Regions from separate parts of the Homo sapiens genome. Here regions 2, 3 and 4 are each linked to region 1. Evidence: fine-mapped expression QTL. A gene starts in region 1. Each other region holds a variant in brackets. All regions are shown on one strand. Distances are from middle to middle.

Evidence for each region. PIP is the estimated chance that this variant, and not a neighbour inherited with it, causes the effect.
Region 2: its variant is fine-mapped to the expression of BMPR1A in visceral fat (GTEx, PIP 0.96).
Region 3: its variant is fine-mapped to the expression of BMPR1A in lung (TOPMed, PIP 0.92).
Region 4: its variant is fine-mapped to the expression of BMPR1A in whole blood (TOPMed, PIP above 0.99). The same link has a PIP of 0.9 or more in nasal epithelium.

What each region holds. Positions count from the first base shown.
Region 1 is chr10:86,753,599-86,758,722 of GRCh38, reverse strand. It overlaps BMPR1A (bone morphogenetic protein receptor type 1A), which reads right to left and starts at 2,104. Exons shown (of 13, transcript NM_004329.3): 1 at 1,804-2,104. RefSeq lists a silencer at 1,622-2,591.
Region 2 is chr10:86,792,457-86,797,662 of GRCh38, reverse strand. The region is part of intron 1 of BMPR1A (bone morphogenetic protein receptor type 1A); the gene reads right to left. Among named protein-coding and RNA genes, the nearest start is that of BMPR1A, 38 kb to the right of the region's middle. RefSeq lists an enhancer at 3,920-4,646. The variant G/A (reference allele first, on the strand shown) is at 2,233.
Region 3 is chr10:86,915,618-86,920,823 of GRCh38, reverse strand. It overlaps BMPR1A (bone morphogenetic protein receptor type 1A), which reads right to left. Exons shown (of 13, transcript NM_004329.3): 9 at 3,498-3,690; 10 at 1,355-1,652. Among named protein-coding and RNA genes, the nearest start is that of MMRN2, 39 kb to the left of the region's middle. The variant T/C (reference allele first, on the strand shown) is at 2,157.
Region 4 is chr10:86,924,633-86,929,838 of GRCh38, reverse strand. It overlaps BMPR1A (bone morphogenetic protein receptor type 1A), which reads right to left. Exons shown (of 13, transcript NM_004329.3): 13 at 1,870-5,206. Among named protein-coding and RNA genes, the nearest start is that of MMRN2, 30 kb to the left of the region's middle. The variant C/T (reference allele first, on the strand shown) is at 2,040.

The DNA.
Region 1 (5,124 bases):
AGGAAAAGCAGACTACACTTGGCAATCTCTAGAGATGGATTGTGAATGACTAAATTTTAATTTCAATGTTGCGCTAGTTCGCAATTAACAACCATGTGTTACTTTTATTACGAACAAGCTTTTTAAAATGTTAATAAGATTTGAAAAGGAAAAGCAGCAACAAGACAGCTTGAAGGAGTAGCAGACTTAAGAAAAGGTTTTTGTAAACTGAAAAAATCTTAAGAACATTTGTACTTTAAAGAACCCAAATACGACAGAGAAAATAACTCACGCTCCACTAAGCAGGAAAATTAGAAGGAAAGGAAAAAAACCCCAAGGTGTTAACTAATAAGAAAGACAAAAAAAAAAAAAAAAATTCTCCCTCTTTGACGGAAGGTTAAGAAGCCAGTAACAGAAGGAATTTAATGAAGGAGCTCCTGCTAAGTGCCTCAACCTCTTCTGTAAAGGGTGGGGAGAAGTGAAGAAAGTAGAAAAAGTTTAAAGTGGGCTCCACGGAAAATGGAGGAAAAATTAAACAAGAACTGAGTCTGGTTCTACTAAAAACGCATTCTACATTTCAATCGGCCTTTCATACACTCACCCCATTCCTAGATCAGAGAATTGCCCATATTTTAGCTTCAAATTTAAAAATCTAAATAATTCTGGTTCACATTCTTTATTTCAACAACTGAAAACAATGAGACGCATTAAGTTACACTCTAATTCAAAGTTTAACTCCTCTCACAAGTAAATACAATAAAGTAGTTGTTTTCAACTCCAGCAACAAAATAGCGATAATTTCAAGTAAGAGTAACTGAAAAATGTTCCTAAACGTAAAAGTGTTTGCAAACAGTTTTGGTTTTTTTTCTTCCTAATTCGTTTGCCAGAATACGATGTTCCTGGGTTCAAATCCCAGCTCCCTTAGACAAGTTAGTTAACCTCTTTGCGACTCGGTTTCTTCCCCTAAAACAATGAGGAATACAATAAACCAGAATCGTTGTAAGGATTAAATGACGTAACACAGGTGCCAAGTTCATACTATGTACTCTGAACAGTTTGTTAACCGCTTAAAAGAGAAAACCTGCAGGAGTTTGACCAAATTAAAACATCTGAGAGCATGAAAGAGTACCACGCTCAAACGCCAGACCCTAACACACAGCATATTATTTTTCTTCCCTGACGCAAGCTCATTTTTTTTTCCTTGCCAAATCTTTCCACTAGGAGTCTGGAAAGAGAAAAAAGGGTCCAGGCAATCCAGCAGAAAGTTTTCCAAAACTGAAGTACGGAATCACCAGGCCACGGAGCGGAGGCCGCGCAGGACAACAGGTGAAGCAGCTCCGGGAGCTCGGGGGCCAGGGCCCCTTCCCGCGGGGACTCGGGGGCGGGCCGGCTGCTCCTCTCACTCGACCCCCGCCCGAAACTCATTTTGTTCTCCCCTGTTCCTCCCCACAGCGTCCGGAGCCAAATCACAAATATCAGCCTCGCCGCTCCGGGGCGGGGAGGTGAGCGCCTTTCCCATTTAAGGATTCCAGAAGCGTCCCCGGAGCGACTTTCGCCCACTCCGCATCCCCAAACTCGGCCTGCAACCCGCGAGTGGGAGACAAAAGAGGGGCCGGCGGGGGACGCGGCGCGGGGTGCCGTGGGTCTCTGGCTGGGCGGTCCCGGCCCAGCGCGCGCCGAGGCCTGCGGAGCTGCCGGGGCCGGGCCGGGCAGCCCCTGGCTCCGGCCACCGCGCGCCCAGCTGCCTCTGCAGCCTCGCCCGAGCCCCTCTGGCCTCCCCGCTGCGGCCAGCCCCTCCGGTCCGCACGCGCACTCCCAACTCACCCGGACCCCAGGGAACGCATCCTCCAGCCCTCGGCGCGGAGCGGGTGGGCGCGGCGAGCCGCCGGGGCGAAGTGGGGCCCGAATCGGCCTTCGCCCTTGGCGTGCAGCGGCCCCGACCCGGTCGCCCCTCGATCGGGCCGTGCGATCTTCGCCGCGCGCGGACGGACGCGCCGAGCCTAAGCCTTCCTGCCCGCCCTTGGCCCTCCTCCCTCCTCGCTCCTGCCTCCTCCCTTCTCCTTCGCCAAGCCCGGCAGGCGGATTCCAATCTCTGCAGCGGCCGCCGCCACCGCCGCCGACTCTTGCCAGGAGGGGAGGGGGCGGCGCGGGTGCGGGGGCCTGGGGGAGGGGCGGGCGTCCGCGGGCCTTGCACGGCGCGCGCGCACTGGGAAGGCCCCCGCCCGCGCCGCGCGCACCCGACCACGGGCGCCTGCCCCGCCCCGCCCCGGACACGAAAAGAGCCGAGCGCACGGCGGAAGCGCCCGAAGAGTTCGCGGAGCCCGGCGCCCAGTTGCCGGGGAGGAGGGCCAGCCGCCGGCAAGGGGGCGCCGAGCTGCTGGTGCGGGCGGGAGTCGGGGCTGCTCCTCCGCGCGGGCCCGCCGGCCCCTCCCCACAAGCCAGCCCCACAGCTGCCGCCCGGGTAGCTTCCCGCAGACGCCGTAGGTAGCACGCGATGGAACGCGGCGGAGGGGAGCGTGGACACGGCTGCCGGGCGCTGCGGCCATCGGCGCCCTGGACGCCCGCTCCGGCCTTCGGGGCCGGATATCCCCACTCTCGCGGGCTCTTTCGCGTGGACCCCTCCTCCGGCCGACACTCACACTGCGGTGAACGCCAGTCAGCTGGCGTGAAATAAGGTCGCTGGGAAGGCACCAAGTCACCAAGGTGGGGGATGGCCAGGTCGTGGTAGTTGCGACAAAGAAAAATATAAGTCACATTGCATTTGTTTCTCGCCCACCCACCGCTCCCGGCGTCTCTTCCCGGGCTCCTTGCCAGCGTGCCGAGGCGCAGGCAGGGTGATGGAGGCTCCCCGGCCGGGAGGATCTGCCGGGGAGAGCGGCTTCCCTCATCGATTCGGGAGCGCCAGGCCCGGCGCGCCCGGGCTCCTGTGACCTGCGAGCCCGCGAATTCCAGCGGCATAAGATAAGGAGCGGCGAGGGCCCAACAGGACTGAGGTCAGCCAGCTATAAATACGCCTCCAGCTCCACCGCGGGCTCACGCTGGTGACCTCGTGTACCCTCCGGAGGCTCATTCCGTCCATTTGGAAAATGCAAATAATTGTCACCACCTCTTTTCTTCCATTTCCCCTCATTCATGGTGGAAAATGCTTTTAAAAGTATTCGATGACCCGTATGTGAGGAAAGAGGAGATAGGCCCCTTTTTCACCAAATGTGACTTTAACCTCCTTAGTAATCCAAGAAATGTATCAAGTTTAAGTCACTTAACAAAAGATGTTCTTTTAAAGGTGCATTTTAAAAAATCACTTTTAAAACTGGGTAAACTGGGTAAAAAGAAAGGGGGAAGGAAAACAATGTGCCAGGCATTTGTATTGACACACATTCTTGCCTGAAGAGGTGTTTAGATTCCAGGGTATTCCCTTATATTCTGGTATAAATGTTTGAATTCCCGTGTATTTTGTTTCAATTTTTTGGTTTATCTTTTATTCTGTCTCCCTTTTCTTCTTTTACCCGCCTTTGCCCTTAATGCTGCAGATAGCCTCTGTCATTCTGAATTATTTTTCAATTCTGTTTTCTTCCCTAATCTTTTTTTCTGGGCTCTTCAGCTGTCTCAGGTTTGACAGTCATGGGTTGTAGTATCTTGCTATGCAGGAAGAAGAGGATACGTGAGATTACTTGCATCAACTAAAATTGGTCACTTTTCTTTCTCAAGTTTCCTTCATAATACCCAGTTTTAGTTTTTTTGTTTTTTGGGGTTTTTTTGTTCTTTTTTTTTTGAGACGGAGTCTCGCTCTGTCGCCCAGGCTGAAGTGCAGTGGCGCCATCTCGGCTCACTGCAAGCTCCGCCTCCTGGGTTCACGCCATTCTCCTGCCTCAGCCTCCTGAGCAGCTGGGACTACAGGCGCCCGCCACCACGCCCGGCTAACTTTTTGTATTTTTAGTACAGACGGGGTGTCACCGTGTTAATAGGTGTTCTCGATCTCCTGACCTCGTGATCCTCCCGCCTCGGCCTCCCAAAGTGCTGGGATTACAAGCGTGAGCCACTGCGCCCAGCCCCAGCTTTAGTTCTAAAGGAAAAGATGGGCCTTTTGCTTAAGGAGATTCACATTGATTGGTCAAAGCTCTCATTGACGTATGCTGAGCAATGTGTCGGCAGAGAAAACCATGGCAAGCGTGTTATTATGCTCTTTATAGTCTAGTTGGATTTTTAGACATATGAATTGGTCTATAAAATAGACAACAATCTCAGGTGGGAACCTTAGTACATCAAGTTTCTGAAATGTACAAATGAGTATTCCCTGGCTTGTGTTATCTGCCACTGTAGAAATGAGAGCAAAATTGAAGCATCAAATTTTAAGTCGTGATATGTTTGCTTCTCTGCAAAAGACTCTCCTTTTCAAATCTTCAGGAATTTTTCGCTCTCCTTTGATAAGGCCCAGCTAGTACCCAGGCTTCAATCCTCAGCGCCCTGGCTACCAGCAGCTAGTGGGGCATGCTGTTCTCCCTGGCTACTGGCATGTTTATGCATGCCAGCCCGTTTCTCCGGTCTGTCTGCCCAGGGAGACATCTGGACACGTGTGTTCTGGCCCCCAAACTCAAAAGCAACATCTCGGGATCCACAGTTAACATTCCGTAATGTGTTGGTATTCCTTTAAGTGGGTTACTAGAATAGGCTGGAAATGGTCTTTTCTTCTGTCCAGGTAGGTCACAAGAGAGGTAGTTGTTACATGCCCAAAGCAGCATTCATTAATTACATCGTGCATTTAGTTATTTGTTTGTGGTCTGAGCCCCTCTGCTCCACTAGAATATAAACTCCATGAGCAAAAGACTTTGTCAGTCTCTCTTTTTTTAGAGACAGGTTCTCACTTTGTCACCCAGGCTGGAGTGCAGCGGCATAGTCATAGTTCACTGTAACCTGGAACTCCTGGGCTCACGTGATCCTCCCCCCTCAGCCGCCCAAGTAGCTGGGACTACAGGCCAGCTTGACTTTGTCAATCTATTCTCAACTCTCTCCTCAGAGCCTAGTGCCTGGCAAGTGAATATTTGTTAAATGAGAGAAGAGAAATAAGCATACATATCCTCTAGGCATTTCTAAACCTTGTCACCAAGACCCTTTTAGTGTTAGAGGGTGGCATGGCTATCTTGGAAA
Region 2 (5,206 bases), 39 kb before region 1:
GGGCACGGTGGCTCACGCCTGTAATCCCCAGCACTTTGGGAGGCTGAGGTGGGCGGATCACTTGAGGTCAGGAGTTCAAGACCAGGCTGGCCAACGTGGTGAAACCTCGTCTCTACTAAAAATACAAAAATTGGCTGGGCGCAGTAGTTCATGCCTGTAATCCCAACACTCAGGGAGGCCGAAGTGGGCGAATCACGAGGCCAGGAGTTCCAAGACCAGCCCAACCAACACTGCGAAACCCCATCTCTACTAAAAATACAAAAAATTAGCTGGACATAGTGGTGGGCGCCTGTAATCCCAGCTACTCAGGAGGCTGAGGCAGGAGAATCACTTGAACCCAGGAGGTGGAGGTTGCAGTGAACCGAGATTGGGCCACTACACTCCAGCCCAGACAACAGAGCAAGACTCCGTCTCAAAAAAAAAAAAAAAAATTAGCCGGGCTTGGTGGCAGGCGCCTGTAATCCCAGCTGCTCTGGAGGCTGAGGCAGGAGAATTGCTTGAACTTGGGAGGCGGAGGCTGCAGTGAGCAGAGATCGCGCCACTGCACTCCAGCCTGGGCGACAGAGCAAGACTGTCTCAAAAAAAAAAAAAAAAGAAAAGAAAAGAAAAAGAAAGGAAAAATAAGAGTATAAACTGGGAAGAAAAATTGGAGCCACAATATAGAAAGCCAAGTATAAAATCAAGTTACTGGGCAAAAATCTGTGAATAAATTAGAACTAAAGCATGAGAGCTAAAGAGAATAAAACTTTTATGAACAGGACAAAACAGAACAACACCAACTCCCAATACCCAACCACAAACTTTTATTGGCTGTACCTTTTCTCTTTTGGAAAAAGCTCACTGGGACAATATTCTGCTAAGAAAATACAGTAACTCAGTCTCGGTGACATGGCAAAACCCTGTCTCTACAAAAAATACAAAAATTAGCTGGAGTGGTAGCGTGAGCTGGTCCCAGCTACTTGGGAGGCTGAGGTGGAAGCACTGCTAGAGCCTAGGAGGGGGAAGTTGCAGTGAACTGAGATCATGCCACTGTACTCCAGCCTGGGCAACAGAGAGAGATTCTGTCTCAAAAAACAAAAAAGAAGAAACAAGGAAAGAAAAGAAAATACAGCACCTACTCTCAAAATACTAAAAATAAATAAATAAATAAATAAATAAATAAATAAATAAATGTGCCTAAATTTATGTGATATAATTCTGATTACTAATTATAGTGACTTTCTTCAGAAGGGTAGTAAGTAAATTGATGAACATTATTAATACTTAAAATGACCTAAAAGTGAAGAAAAAAATAGTATTTCTTAATGGACAAATAATGTTTGACAGGGATTTACAAATAGCTTACAAATAATGCTTAAACTTCCTAACCCCTCAGAAAAGGGACCAGTCACATATTTATAAATACATATTTATGAAATACATTTAAACTTTAATAACCAAAATTGTTTAATTCCTTAAAGGCTTAAAAAAAAGCATATATTCTAACTAAAACCAACTGGGAAAAAAATACGACATAAAACAGTCAAATTAATATTCAGAATATGGCACTGGGATTTTATGACGTTTTTATGTGAAAATTCTTTTCAAACTCTTCATTTATCTAAGAGTAGCAAGGAAACAGAACAAAAGAAATATTGTAACTGCTTTGGGGACTTTTTACCACTACCTTTCTGAAACACACAATCTAATTCATGGCCATTTTGTGCCAAGAAAGTTATTTTTTTCCCCTCAAAATATAATTTAAAATACTCTTTAAATTTAACTCAATATCAATTTGAGATAAATTGATGTTTAACTGCATTATTAAACTATAACCTTTAAGCTCTCAAAGAAAATATTTTTAAATACCTCTGAATATACAAAGAAATAACTATTTGGATTACTTGAAATGCTAAATTATAAAAAAGTAAAGAAAGCCTTAAAAAAAATAAGTAGCAACTTTTAAGAGTATTTAAGTTAAAATGGTACTCTTCGGGGCCCTGTTAGGAAAACTGCCTAATTCCCTCCCTCCCTACTATGGGGAAGGGTTGAAGACATAGTGGCAAATGCATACTCTAGCCTCACTATTGCTTCTCTGAACGTGTGCAGTGGTAGGCTCAGGAACAAAGAATGTGTAACCTGATCTCTTTTCCTTCTCTCCTTCACAGCAACTTTTAGAAAGTAATTTAACCTCCCAAAATGGCATCTTTGTGCTGCTTAGGGGAAAAAGATCTATTCACTGTTACAGCGTTA[G/A]GAAAAAAAAAAAACAAATCACTTTTTAAATATGGTTTTTGCTTAACATAGTGATATTTTTGTCAAACACTGAGTACTTAGACAAGCCAATTATAAATGAATCACTATCTGAGTAAAATGTCTACTAACCAAGATTTTAAATGTAGCTCAGGATTTAAGAAAAATCAGTCTTACTAATGCAAGGTAGACTTAGTATTTATTTTGCTTCTACAACACATATAGTATAGCTCCAAATAAGTCTACAGAAAAAAAAAAATAAAGATTAAAAATTATCTAGATAGGCCAGGAGTGGTGGCTCACCCCTATAATCCCAGCACTTTGGGAGGCAGAAGCAGGCAGATCACCTGAGGTCGGGAGTTCAAGACCAGCCTGACCAACATGGAGAAACCCCATCTCTACTAAAAATACAAAATTAGCTAGTTGTGGTGGTGCATGCCTGTAATCCCAGCTACTCGGGAGGCTGAGGCAGGAGAACTGCTTGAACCAAGGAGGTGGAGTGTGCGGTGAGTCAAGATGGCACCATTGCACTCCATCCTGGGAAACAAGAGCGAAACTCTCTATCTAAAAAAAAAAAACTATATCTATATCTATATATCTATATCTATAGATATAGATATAGATAAATTTGAATTTTAAATCCTAGTGACTATACGAATCACAGAAGTCATTACTTTTAATTCTCATATTATCTTTTCATTTACCATAATTTAATAAAGGAAATATGTGAATCTGAAAATCTGGAAAGGAATAGAAACCTAAAAATAGTTGCTAGGCAGGTATCAAAGAATGTACTGAACGTTCTCACCTTTGACAAAAATCTTAAAAGCCATTCTAAAATTAATACCAACAAAATGTTATATACTTTTTATACATTTCAAAAGGCACTCTAACTTGATGACTTAATTTGATCTTCACAACAACCTTGTGAGTTAGGTGATCACATATTTGCTTATTTGAGACAGACACAAAAAGATTGGTAGAAATCTCTTGCCTCCCATCTAGAACCCTAAACTATTACTTTATTTCAGTACATACAGACAAGCATTACTATCTTGATTTCACCAAAGAAGAAACAAGTACAGAGAAGAAACTTGCCTAACGTCACAGTGCTGCTACACAGCAGAACAAGATTCAGGCCAGGACCAATCCAAGCCTCACCTCTAACCACAACTGTCATAAAAAAAAAATAGATAAAATTAACAGTTCAAAATTATGTAGCTGACTAAAAACCAACTGTGGTAGCAGGATAATGGCCCCTGCAGACATTCACATCCTAATCCCTGTAACCTATGAATATGTTATTTAAATGGCAAAAGGGACTTTGCAGATGTGTGACTAAGGGTCCAAAACCTGAGATGGGGCGATTATCCTGGATGAGCTTGTTGGGACCAATCTACTCACATGGTCCTTAAAAGCAGAGAACTTCTCCCAAGTACGGTGGGAAAGAGATGACAGGAGGTCAGAGCCATGTCACCTTGCTGACTGTGAAGGTGAACAGGAAGGGGAGCCTGATCCAGGAATGCAGCCAGCCTCTAGAGGCTGTAAGAGGCACAGAATCCATACTTCCTTAGAACTTCCCGAAAGGAACACGGCCCTGTAGACACCTGCATCTTAGCCTAGTGAGACCTGTGTTGGACTTCTGACCTGCAGAACCATAAGATAATAAATTTGTGCTCTATAAACCACTAAAAGTATGGTAATTTGTTACAGTAACAACAGAAAATATACCAACTACACTACATAATTGACACTGTCTTACACCATCTAAAAAAACTATCTGTCAGGCCTGGCGCAGTGGCTCACCTGTAATCCCAGCACTTTGGGAGGCCGAGGCAGGCAGATCACCTGAGACCAGCCTGATCAATATGATGAAACCCTGTCTCTACTAAAAATACAAAAATTAGCTAGGCGTGGTGGCATGCACCTGTAATCCCAGCTACTCGGGAGGCTGAGACAGGAGAATCGCTTGAATCCGGGAGGCAGAGGTTGCAGAGAGCCGAGATCACGCCATTGCACTCCAGCCTGGGCAACAACAGCGAAACTCCATCTCAAAAAAAAAAAAAAACTGTCAGTGAGCAAGCGTGTCATCAGAAATCCTGTCTCCAGTACAGATGAAATAAAAATACAGGTACCCTTCCCTATACAACTCAATGTGATCTTACTGCTTAATGATATTCTGGCCCAATGCTATACTTTTTAATTCTTCTTCCTCTTCTCCTAACAAGTCAACTGTAAATACAAAGCCCTGAAATTCCGAAACATAAATCCAGCTAACTTTCTTTTTTGCCTTGTCCACACCACCATGTGTGTGTGGGGTGGCGGGGGGTGGGGGGGGGTATAGATCAGGAGGATGAAAAAAGGACACATAGTAGCTAGAGAAGACTGCATTAAGGCAGAAGACTTACCAGAAAGAAACAAAGCAGTGGGCTATTAAACAGAATGTGAATCACTGAACAGAGTATTTGCCAAGAAGCTGCACTAGACATAATAATAAATTACTCCTTGATATAGGTGCTATTATTATCCCATTTATATATAGGGAAACAGAGCACAGAACAGCAATATAATTTAGCAAGGTCACTGTAATATCAACCTTAAATCTCTTCAACAGAATCCAAATACAATTGTGATCTGATACCCATCATGATCCATTTTAAAGTGAAATTTTCACAGCATATTTTCCTCCTTGAATTCATATTTCCAGTACATTTGCCCTGCATATAGTAATTGCTAATGCTTGGAAGTCTTATTAGTCACTCAGTCATACATGTCTGAAGTTCTGTTTGTTTGTTTGTTTTATAGAGACAGATTCTCCCTATGTTGCCCTGGTTGGTTTCAAACTCCTGGACTCAAGCAATCCTCCTGCCTTGGCCTCCCAAAGTGATGGGATTACAGGTTTGAGCCACTGCACCCAGCCTGTCTGATGTTTAAATGAAAAACATTTTAAATTTCCTGACCATAAAGAAGCTTCTAA
Region 3 (5,206 bases), 160 kb before region 1:
AGATAATTATGTCTGAGAAGTGGTGAATATGAAAATACAAGAGGAATCGCTTGCTTTTACCACTCTCATATGATACACTAAGGCTTTGTGACATAGGATTACATTTTCTTCTTTATGGGTCCCATCAACAGAGTTCTGTTGTTAGCAATGTTTACATGATCATACTGACAATTAGTAATAATTACTCTAAAGCAGTGATCAATATAATGCGTTGTATTTTCCTATAGCATCTGATAAATATCTGAGCCAACAAATACTACACTGACTCAGAACACTGTAACAGATTTAAATGTCTCTTACAGTTGTTTTAAAGACTGGTACTTTTATATTACAGCCTAAAATGAATTCTGAAATGTAAAGCAGCCACTCCATTCTAGAATTACAAGATTAAAATGGTTTCAAAGGTTTCCTAAAAATTTGTAATTTCTAACACTTGCATTTGTTTTAAAATACTGACACTATCAAGTGGTGACAGAAAAATGACATCCTTATCTCTACTGCTTACGGGTGTGTAAACTGAGGCACACTGCTGAAAGAAATAATATGCAACATACCATAGTTTAATATGTATAAACTCACTGCCTCAGCAGGCCCTTCTCTAGGAATCCATCATGAAGAAATGCTTGTACAAGTGCACAAGGATCAAATATATAATATATGGTTAAAATACAACAATGTTCATTAAAAAACCTTTTCATAATCAACTGAAGACACCTTTAATGTTCATCAGTTGGGTCTTAAGAATAAACTACAGTACCTCCACATATGGAAAACTCTGCATCTGTTAAAAAGAATGAAGTAGATTTACATCAGCTGAAATGGAAGGATGGCTAAGACTATATGGCACACACCTGTAATCCCAGCACTTTGGGAGGATCAGCTGAGCCTAGGAGTTTGAGACCAGCCTAGGCAACACAGTGAGACCCCATCTCCGCAAAAAATAAAAACATTAGCTAGGTGTGGCAGTGCATGCCTGTAGTCCCAGCTACTCAGGAGGCTGAGGTGGGAGGATTGCTTGAGCCCATGAGGTCGAGGTTGCAGTGAGCTAAGATCACACTACTATATTCCAGCCTGGGCAACTGAGTGAGACACTGTCTTTAAAAAAAACAAAAAACAAAAAACAAAAAACAAACAAAAAAAAACACCAAAAAAATATATATATATCAAGAATTATGTATAGGAGAAGTAGGACACAATTTTTGTAAAAAGAACAAAATCCCCCCCAACTATACATTTATGTAACTAAAAACAAGCATATGCACATTTTTAGAATTCCATTATCTTGAATACAAATAGGGAAATATCTTTTGGAAATTAAAATAATTTCAAAACAGTGGGGCAAAGAACCACTCACCTGTTGAATTTAACAGCAAGGCCCAGGTCAGCAATGCAGCAACTCCCATTTTTCTTGATGAGGATGTTTTTGCTCTTTAGGTCTCGATGAGCAATTGCGGGCTTTCCTTGGGTGCCATAAATTTCTGTGTGCAGGTGGCACAGACCACAGGCAGCTGAATAAGCCAATTTAAGCAGGGCTCTGGTGTCCAGTGTAGCACATTTCAGGAAGTCATAGAGAGATCCATTTTCATGGTAATCAGTAATCAAATAGAGCTGAGTCCAGGAACCTGTACCTTTAATGTCTGCCGCTATGAAACCTGTCCAGTTGATGAGTTTAAAAGGTTAGTTATCATCAGAGATAGGCTAGGGAGAAGTAATGCTCATTCTGGATACTGAGAAAAACTTAGGTATCATGTGCAGATAGTGAAACTTTAATTCGCCTGACACCAAGTCGTGAATGTGTTACTAAAAATTATATTTCTACATTTACACATATATCTGTACTTCTACAATAAATTTATAATAATCTTAATAATCATGAAAGTGAATAGGATTAAGAAAAAGATCATATATGCTGGGTGTGGTGGCTCACACCTGTATCACTTTGGGAGGCCAAGGCAGGAGGATCACTTGAGGTCAGGAGCTCGAGACCAGCCTGGCCAACAGGGCGAAACCCCGTCTCTACTAAAAATACAAAAATTAGTTGGGCATGGTGGCAAGTGCCTGTGGTCCCGGCTACTCTGGAGGCTGAGGCAAGAGAATCACTTGAACCTGGCGGCAGAGGTTGCAGTGAGCCAAGATGGCGCCACTGCACTCCAGCC[T/C]GAGCGACAGAATGAGACTCCGTCTCAAAAAAAAAAAAAAGAAAAGAAAAGGAAAGAAAAGAAAAAGATGACATATTATACAAATAACCTGGAGAATATTATCAACCTACATGATTCTCTAGTAGAAAAGGCTCTCAATTTCAAAGCAAAAAGTGGACACTTTTATAAAATTAAGAATGTTCAACTAAGAGTTAGCTCCTAATTAAGCCAACTCCCATTTGCCCATCAGTGACTCATCACAGCTGCCTTTTCAGTCTGGCTCGTTGACTGCCAGGCCCACAGTCCTGCTCTTTTCCTTTCTCTCCTACCCTCTTCCCTCCAGAAAAAGGTCAGTGAGTGCTATGTACTGAGCTGAACAGTGCTCCCCGACAAAATTCATGTCTAAAATCCATGTCATCTATAAACGTGACCTTATTTGGAAAGAGGGTCTTTGCAGATGTAATCAAGTTAAGATGACTCATACAGGATTAGCGTGGGCCCGAATTCAATGGCTGGTGATGTTGTAAGGTGGAAATGTGGACCCAGGCACCCAGGGAGAAGGCCACCTGATGACAGAAATGGAGACTAGAGTGTTGTCTATACTAAGCCAAGGAACACCAAAAATTCCTGGCCACCAACCAGTAGCCAGAGGAGGCAAGGAAGGCTCCTCCTCTAGAGTATTCAGAGACACAACAGCTCTGCCAACACCTTGGTTTTAAACTTCTAGCCTCGAAAACTGAGTGAATACGTTTTGGAGGTTGAAGCCACCCAGTTTGTGGTAATTGATACAGCAGCCCTAGGAAACTAATACAATTGCCTGCTTGGCAACATGCTATGGGCTCTCCAAATTAAAGGGAGGAAAACAAGAGGTGAAGGGAAAAGAAAACTCAGGATAGCCAGATCGGCTTATGTACCTGACTGACCAGCTCACACCTAAATTACTTTGCTATTGTGTAAATGTGGAGATGGGGGGAAACACACATTAAACACAGAACGTACAATGAAACTGCATGTTGGGCTGTTGAGCTTATGAAAGGGAAAAGGCACATATGTTAATGTTACCCTAAATCACTGCTTAAGTTATCTATAAAAGACTGGGTTTTCATTACTATGGGAGTAAGTCCAATAAACTAGTATTATTTTCCATTTGAAACTCACTGCTGTTTCTTCAGCTGGTTAGTAAAGAAAGATCTTGGTTGGCATTCCGGACTATGTTTTATTCAAACCGTGTATTCTACTAGGTTTCCTTTAGCCAAATGTATATAGTTGAACTCACACATTTTCAAAGCACATATGGAGGCTTCCACCTGTACCTCACTAGCCTTGTCAAAAATGAAATTGACTGAATCAGTGTGTACCCACCAAGTATGTTTTCATGGCGCATTAGCACAGTTTGGTAGATTTCTGTTTCTCGAAACCAGCTGGCTTCTTCAGTGGTAAAGAATACTTTCACCGCCACTTTTTCGCCACGCCATTTGCCCATCCATACTTCTCCATATCGGCCTTTACCAACTTGCCGGACCATCTGAATCTGTTTGGCAATAGTTCGCTGAACCTTTATAGAAAAAAGTAAAAGGTTTGAGCTCTTGATGAAAGAAACCCATTAAGACTGGCAAAGGGGTAGTCCATCTCATCAAAAAGCATGGTGTACCCAACCAACTCCAGTTAAAAACTTATAATGTACTTTTTTTTTTTTGAGATGGAGTCTCGCTCTGTCACCCAGGATGGAGTGCAGTGGCGCGATCTCGGCTCACTGCAACCTTCACCTTTTAGATTCAAGTGATTCTCCTGCCTCAGCCTCCCAAGTAGCTGGGATTACAGACACCCGCCACCATGCCCAGCTAATTTTTTTGTATTTTTAGTAGAGATGGGGTTTAGCCACGTTGACCAGGCTGGTCTTGAACTCCTGACCTCAGGTGATCCACCCCACCCCCGGCCTCCCATAATGCTGGGATTACAGGCGTGAGCCACCATGCCCGGCCATAATGTACTTTAAAGTATGAAACAATGTACAATGTATTCTGAAATCATAAACAGGTTATTCAAGTGGCTGGCTGTTTGCAAAAATGGTCATAATAATTACCCTCCCAGTGCACACAGTCGTGGGTAGTCTTGGTCCACAGACTCAGGGCTTAGGCCACATGACTTGCTTTGGATAAAAGAACAACAGCGAACGTGATGCAAGCAAAGACCTGACAAATGTTTGTGGACTGGGGCTTGCCCCCTTCCTGCTGCTTTGGGAACCCTGTGACCAAAAAATAATGGCAGCATGAACTGTCGGCCAAGGGTGTGAACTACACCACCTAGCTCTAGCTAAGCAAGTCCAACAAATGAACTGCCCCACAGACTCACAGAATGAGAAATAATGTTTGTTGCTTCACATCACTAAGTTTTGGGGTGGTTTATTATGCAGCAAAGTCCAAATAACAGTTAAAGATCTTAAAAATCCCATCTATAAGACCCTGCCTGATCTGGCCTGGTCCCATTATTTGCTTTGACCACCCACCCACAAACCTCGTTTGACTTATCTCAACTTTTAGAATTCACTCAAGCTTATTCCTGTCGCTGGGTTTTTTTGAATATCCAGTTCCCTTTACTTAGAGTGCTATTTTCTCACTTAAACACCTTCATAGCACACAAAACCTCTCAGTTGCTGCGCTTAACACAATCATAACTTTATTCTTATTTACATATATATTTGCTTGAATTCCATCCCCTGCTCACAGAATATAAGTATTTATTTGGGACAATATCAGAAGTACTTTAATATTTGTTAAATAAAAGATGTACATGGATTGTTATCTTTCATTTTCAGAAGCATTAGTGATCATTCTAAATTAAAAAGAACATTATGCTCCAAGTTGGAAATGCTTCTAAAATGGACTAGATTTAGTGCAAAGCTAAAGTGACTTTATGTATCATTTATTATAGAATCCTTTTGTAAATTTTGTTCTGTTTTTTTGAGACAGAGTCTCGCTCCGTTGCTCAGGCTGGAGTGCGGCGGCCAATCTCAGCTCACTGCAACTTCTGCCTCCCCAGTTAAAACAATTTCCTGCCTCAGCCTCCCGAGC
Region 4 (5,206 bases), 170 kb before region 1:
GTTTCTTAATGTCTGCTCTGTTAATAATATTAAAGAAACCTTGGAATGGAGCAGTGAGACTAACAGATTGCTGGAAAGGAGAAATGAATACATTTATTCAGTGTTTCCACAGACAGAAGGAAAGCTGGCAAGCATTTGCAGTTCCCAGAAATCACTGAGTCTTCTTTACCAGGCTGCATCAGAGCGCCTGCGATTATTCTGAGAAACTTACAATGACACTGAACAGAGACTCCCGTGAGGAATCTGTAAGAGGCTATCTTCAGACACGCATTTCTTTTGAGGAACAATAATCAGTGCCACATCGCGTCTGTGATTTAACATGTTCAGTTCCCTAGGAAAAGGCAGCAGAAGGCACACTGCTGGGATGAATTCACATACACCTGAAAACAGCCCTGACTGGCGGTGGGACTCAGTGCAGGTGGGAAAATGACAAGAAAGTATTGCACAGGAGGAGGAAAGCTATCCAAGGCTTCACTTCCCATTGCAGCAGGAGCATCTTAAGGCCAGGTAAATGCATCCCATCGCTCTAAGCTCATGAACTGCTAGCAGGAATGAAAATGAAAAGCTTTGTGAGTAGCAATATGGCAATGTTTTCCAAGAACCTTAGTTTTTCCATCTTAAAGGATCTTTTAAAAGTTCATATCCACTAGTCTCATTTTCAGAAATGTAATATAAGAAAATAAAGATTTATGTATAAGGATGCTTAATATCTATTTTTCAAAACAATGAAAATAATCCAAATATTCAATAGGGGATTGAGCACAGAAATTACTCCATCTTCTTAGTCAAATATTGTGCAGTCATTAAAAAAAAAGTTCTCAATGGCTATTTAATGGCATACTAGGATCCTAATATTACAAAAAATGCAACATAAAAAAGAATAAGGCCGGGTGCAGTGGCTCACTCCTGTAATCCCAGCACTTTGGGAGGCTGAGGTAGGCAGATCACTTGAGGTCAGGAGTTCGAGACCAGCCTGGGCCAACATGGTGAAACCGCATCTCTACTAAAATACAAAAATTAGCCGGGCGTGGTGGTGCACACCTGTAATCCCGGCTACTTGGGAGGCTGAGGCAGGAGAATCACTTGAACCCAGGGGGCAGAGGTTGCACTGAGCCGAGATCGCGCTACTGCACTCCACCCTGAGTGACAGAGCAAGACTCTCTCAAAAAAAAAGATTGAAAAGAAACACTCAAATGTATATAGTGATAATGTCTGGCAATAGAATTTTGAGTGATTTTTATTTGCTTTATTATTTGCTGTTGTTTCCCAAATTTTCTGCCATGAGTACATTTCCATAATCAGAAAACAATGTTTTGGCCAGGCATGGTGGCTCATGCCTGTAAGCTCAGCACTTTGGGAGGCCAAGGCAAGTGGGCCACCTGAGGTCAGGAGTTCGAGACCAGCCTGGCCAACATGGTGAAACCCTGTCTCTATTAAAAATACAAAAAATTAGCCAGGCATGGTGGCAAACACCTGTAGTTCCAGCTATTCGGGAGGCTGAGGCAGGAGAATTGCTTGAACCCAGGAGGCAAAGGTTGCAGTGAGCTGAGATCGTGCCATTGCACTCCAGCCTGGGCAACAAGAGCAAAACTCCGTCTCAAAAAAAAAAAAAAAAAAAGGAAAAAGAAAACAATGTTTTGTCTTGTTTTTTAAAGGAAAAACCCCTGCACCGTGATAGGTTTAGAAGTTCTCTATCTCCACAGGGCAAGCGTGTACCTACCTGTGCTCCATACTGGGTTTCTGGTAGTTGAAGTGTACATCTCAGGAACATATGTATATACACTAACTTAATCATTACAAAAATCTCAACAGATGACTTCTGATGCACAATACCGTCTGAGTGTAGCATCACAAAACACATCACTAAAGTATACTAAAATAAGGTTATTTACTTCAAAATGATACATTGGACATAATCTGTATATAGAACAAAGCAAGTAATGGTAAACTCTTAAGGCACCTTTTAAACCAGATGCTGTACAAAATACATTTAGTGTGTTACACGTCAAAGACGAATCTATATTTTTGGTGTTTTACAA[C/T]TGCCTGATAAAACTGCTTGCTTTTACCCTTCTTTCAATGCCTATGTACAGTTTCCCCTAATGAAGCAATAATGATATTTCCATTTTATACAATATATACTACATTTTAGTTTTTAAATGGGCCAGGACAAAGGTCACTAAAAGGGCTTAAATAATTCCATAGAAAACAGAATACAGAGCATAAGCTAAAATTACAATAGTTAATCCTTTACAAGAGCCATATTCACATACTTTCCTTATGGGACCATCATTACACGTGGCTTCACAGGATGCTGTGCTGGATTTTGGTTCTTAGGAACACACCTCCTCCCTGCAGTTTCCACTGTGACTCTCACAGCAGCACACTAAGGCAAGAGACGAGCTGTGGCACTGCTATTTTAACACCTGACTCAAAGTCAGTAATAAATATGACCACTTTTAAACACTACAAGGGCTATCATAATCTTTTGTTAAAATAAAAATCATTTCTGCTGTTGAAATGATTTTAGATATTTAGAAACATTTCAAAACAACATCTATGAAGTATGTTTATGAAAGCTGCCCTGGAATAAATTATTCAATATCAAATTTGATCCTGGGCCAACCCAAAGATGCATGATTCTTTAAAAACTATAGTGCATTTTTGTTCTAAACAGAACAAAGCATCTGAAGAAAAGTACTGATTGTTAGAGTAAATCAAAATTTGGCACGTTCTAGGAAAACATAATTTTAAAAAACTATAGGTCACTTTCTAAGTTTAGAAACACTTCTGGACACTGGAAAGGCAATGTAAAAATACTGATTAAAATAACTTTTGTGAAAATATTTCCAAAGAAATCAGATGCAAGTTTTATACATCAGAAACTTGTTCAGTAAAAAGCACAGTAAAAGCTTAGAATAAACAAACTGAAGGAAACCCTAATGTGCCTTTAATCCTAGAGCTATTTGCCAGCATAAAGAGAATTCACAAGAACTCTCTTTGAGGGTTAACTTTTCCTGTTTATAGTCAGGTAGTTTGGGTTGTTTGCTTTTATATTTTAATTATTTAAAGAGCTATCTGAATGAAGCTACACACTTCAAAAACACTAAATTGCAAGTGGGACCAAATAATGGCTTCCAAGGTTTTACGAATTTACTAACTATGGTACTACATAATACTTCTTCTTGCTGGCCTATCATATTCTTTAAATATTTCACTTAGTCGATGAGCTTCAGATTTAAGAATAAGAGTGGAAAGGAGAGACAAGAACTAAGTTTAATGCAACATTTTTGTTTTTTGTTATTTATTTGTTTGTTTATTTGAGATGGAGTTTCGCTCTTTTGCCCAGGCTGGAGTGCAGTGACACGATCTCAGCTCACTGCAACCTCCACCTTCTGATTTTAAGCAATTCTCCTGCTTCAGCCTCCCGAGTAGCTGGGATTACAGGCACCCGCCACCACGCCTGGCTGAGTTTTTTATTTTTAGTAGAGATGGGGTTTCACCATGTTGGCCAGGCTGGTCTTGAACTCCTGACCTTGTGATCCACCCGCCTCAGCCTCCCAAAGTGTTGGGATTACAGGCGTGAGCCACCGCGCCCGGCCACATTTTTAGATTAAGATTCCAAAGACGGCAGCATTTGCTTTTTAAAGAACATGTTATACTAGAAAATGTTTTTACTGAGCAAGTTTCTAAGATTAACTCTTGATATCACTTTTACTAGACCAAGTTAATTTTAAAAAACCATAATAGTGGTCTCATATACTGGCTGTAATTTTTTGCTTCCACACACCATTTGAACATTTCCAATAAACTTTGCCTGTCTTTATATTTTTATTAAGATGACAAATGAACTTTGGGAGGCCGAGGCAGGTGGATCATGAGGTCAGGAGATTGAGACCATCCTGGCTAACAAGGTGAAACCCCGTCTCTACTAAAAATACAAAAAATTAGCCGGGCGCGGTGGCGGGCGCCTGTAGTCCCAGCTACTCGGGAGGCTGAGGCAGGAGAATGGCGTGAACCCGGGAAGCGGAGCTTGCAGTGAGCCGAGATTGCGCCACTGCAGTCCGCAGTCCAGCCTGGGCGACAGAGCGAGACTCCGTCTCAAAAAAAAAAAAAAAAAGATGACAAATGATTTTAAAGATTATGGTATCAAGTCAAAAGTAAACCAAGATTTAAGTAAATTGGGTGTTCTAAGTGCAATCATATCATACGGCAACGCAGATTAAAATATTTGTATTTCTCAGTATACATATGGTGAAAAATTCTGAAAAAACAAGTTATTGGGTATTATCCATATGCAAATTTACTTATCTTGATGAACACTTCAGACTTTAATTATGGCAGATGAAACTTATTAATCAAAATGGTTAAGGCAATTTTCAAATTTGTGAAATTTGATGTGCAGACAAATTTGTAAGTTTTAACCTTAAATGATAGTCAAATTTTGGTAATGGGTGGACATATGCTGATTTCCTCCCATTTAATTTAAACCTTTTTGATGATGATGTGATATAATCACATTTATTTTATGTTATAATCAAATAAAACTATCTCACTTGATGTACTCATGAATTGTTTGCTCAGAATAAATATTTAAAAAGCATTAAAGAAGTATAAGTTTATGTAAATCAGATTTCTTGAGATAACAAGGCATCTATAAAATATGAACCATTTTATTGAAGAACAGTTATACAGTGTAGCTACAGATACTGACTAGATACTAAATATTTCTGCCTGATTTTTCATTGTCTTCACAAGTTAGGGAATAGAAATCAAAAAACCAAAAATCTCAAATGATTTAGCTGTCCAGAACATATTTGACAGTTGATAAATTTATAACAGCTCTGACATATAAATTTCTAATTAGAGAATCCTTTCATTTGAAAAAATTGAGATGATATTACCCTAATGAAGTTTTTACCTGAAGTTAACAAAGTCCTGGATTTGATATATTACTTTGAATGCATTAATTCTGAAAATTTATATTTAGTTCTACTTTATAACATTTCTTCTCTTAAGGATGGGATATGAGGTACACATGAGCTGGTTTCTACAGTATGAATGTATGTACATATATAAAGTATGGTTGTAAAGGAGTGGGTGATTTGCAAATAAAGCACATTATACACAAAATATAAATAACTTCCCTTTTAAAAGTTACTGAGAATAAAGAATATAGAACATGGTTATAGGCACTTACATTGCTATC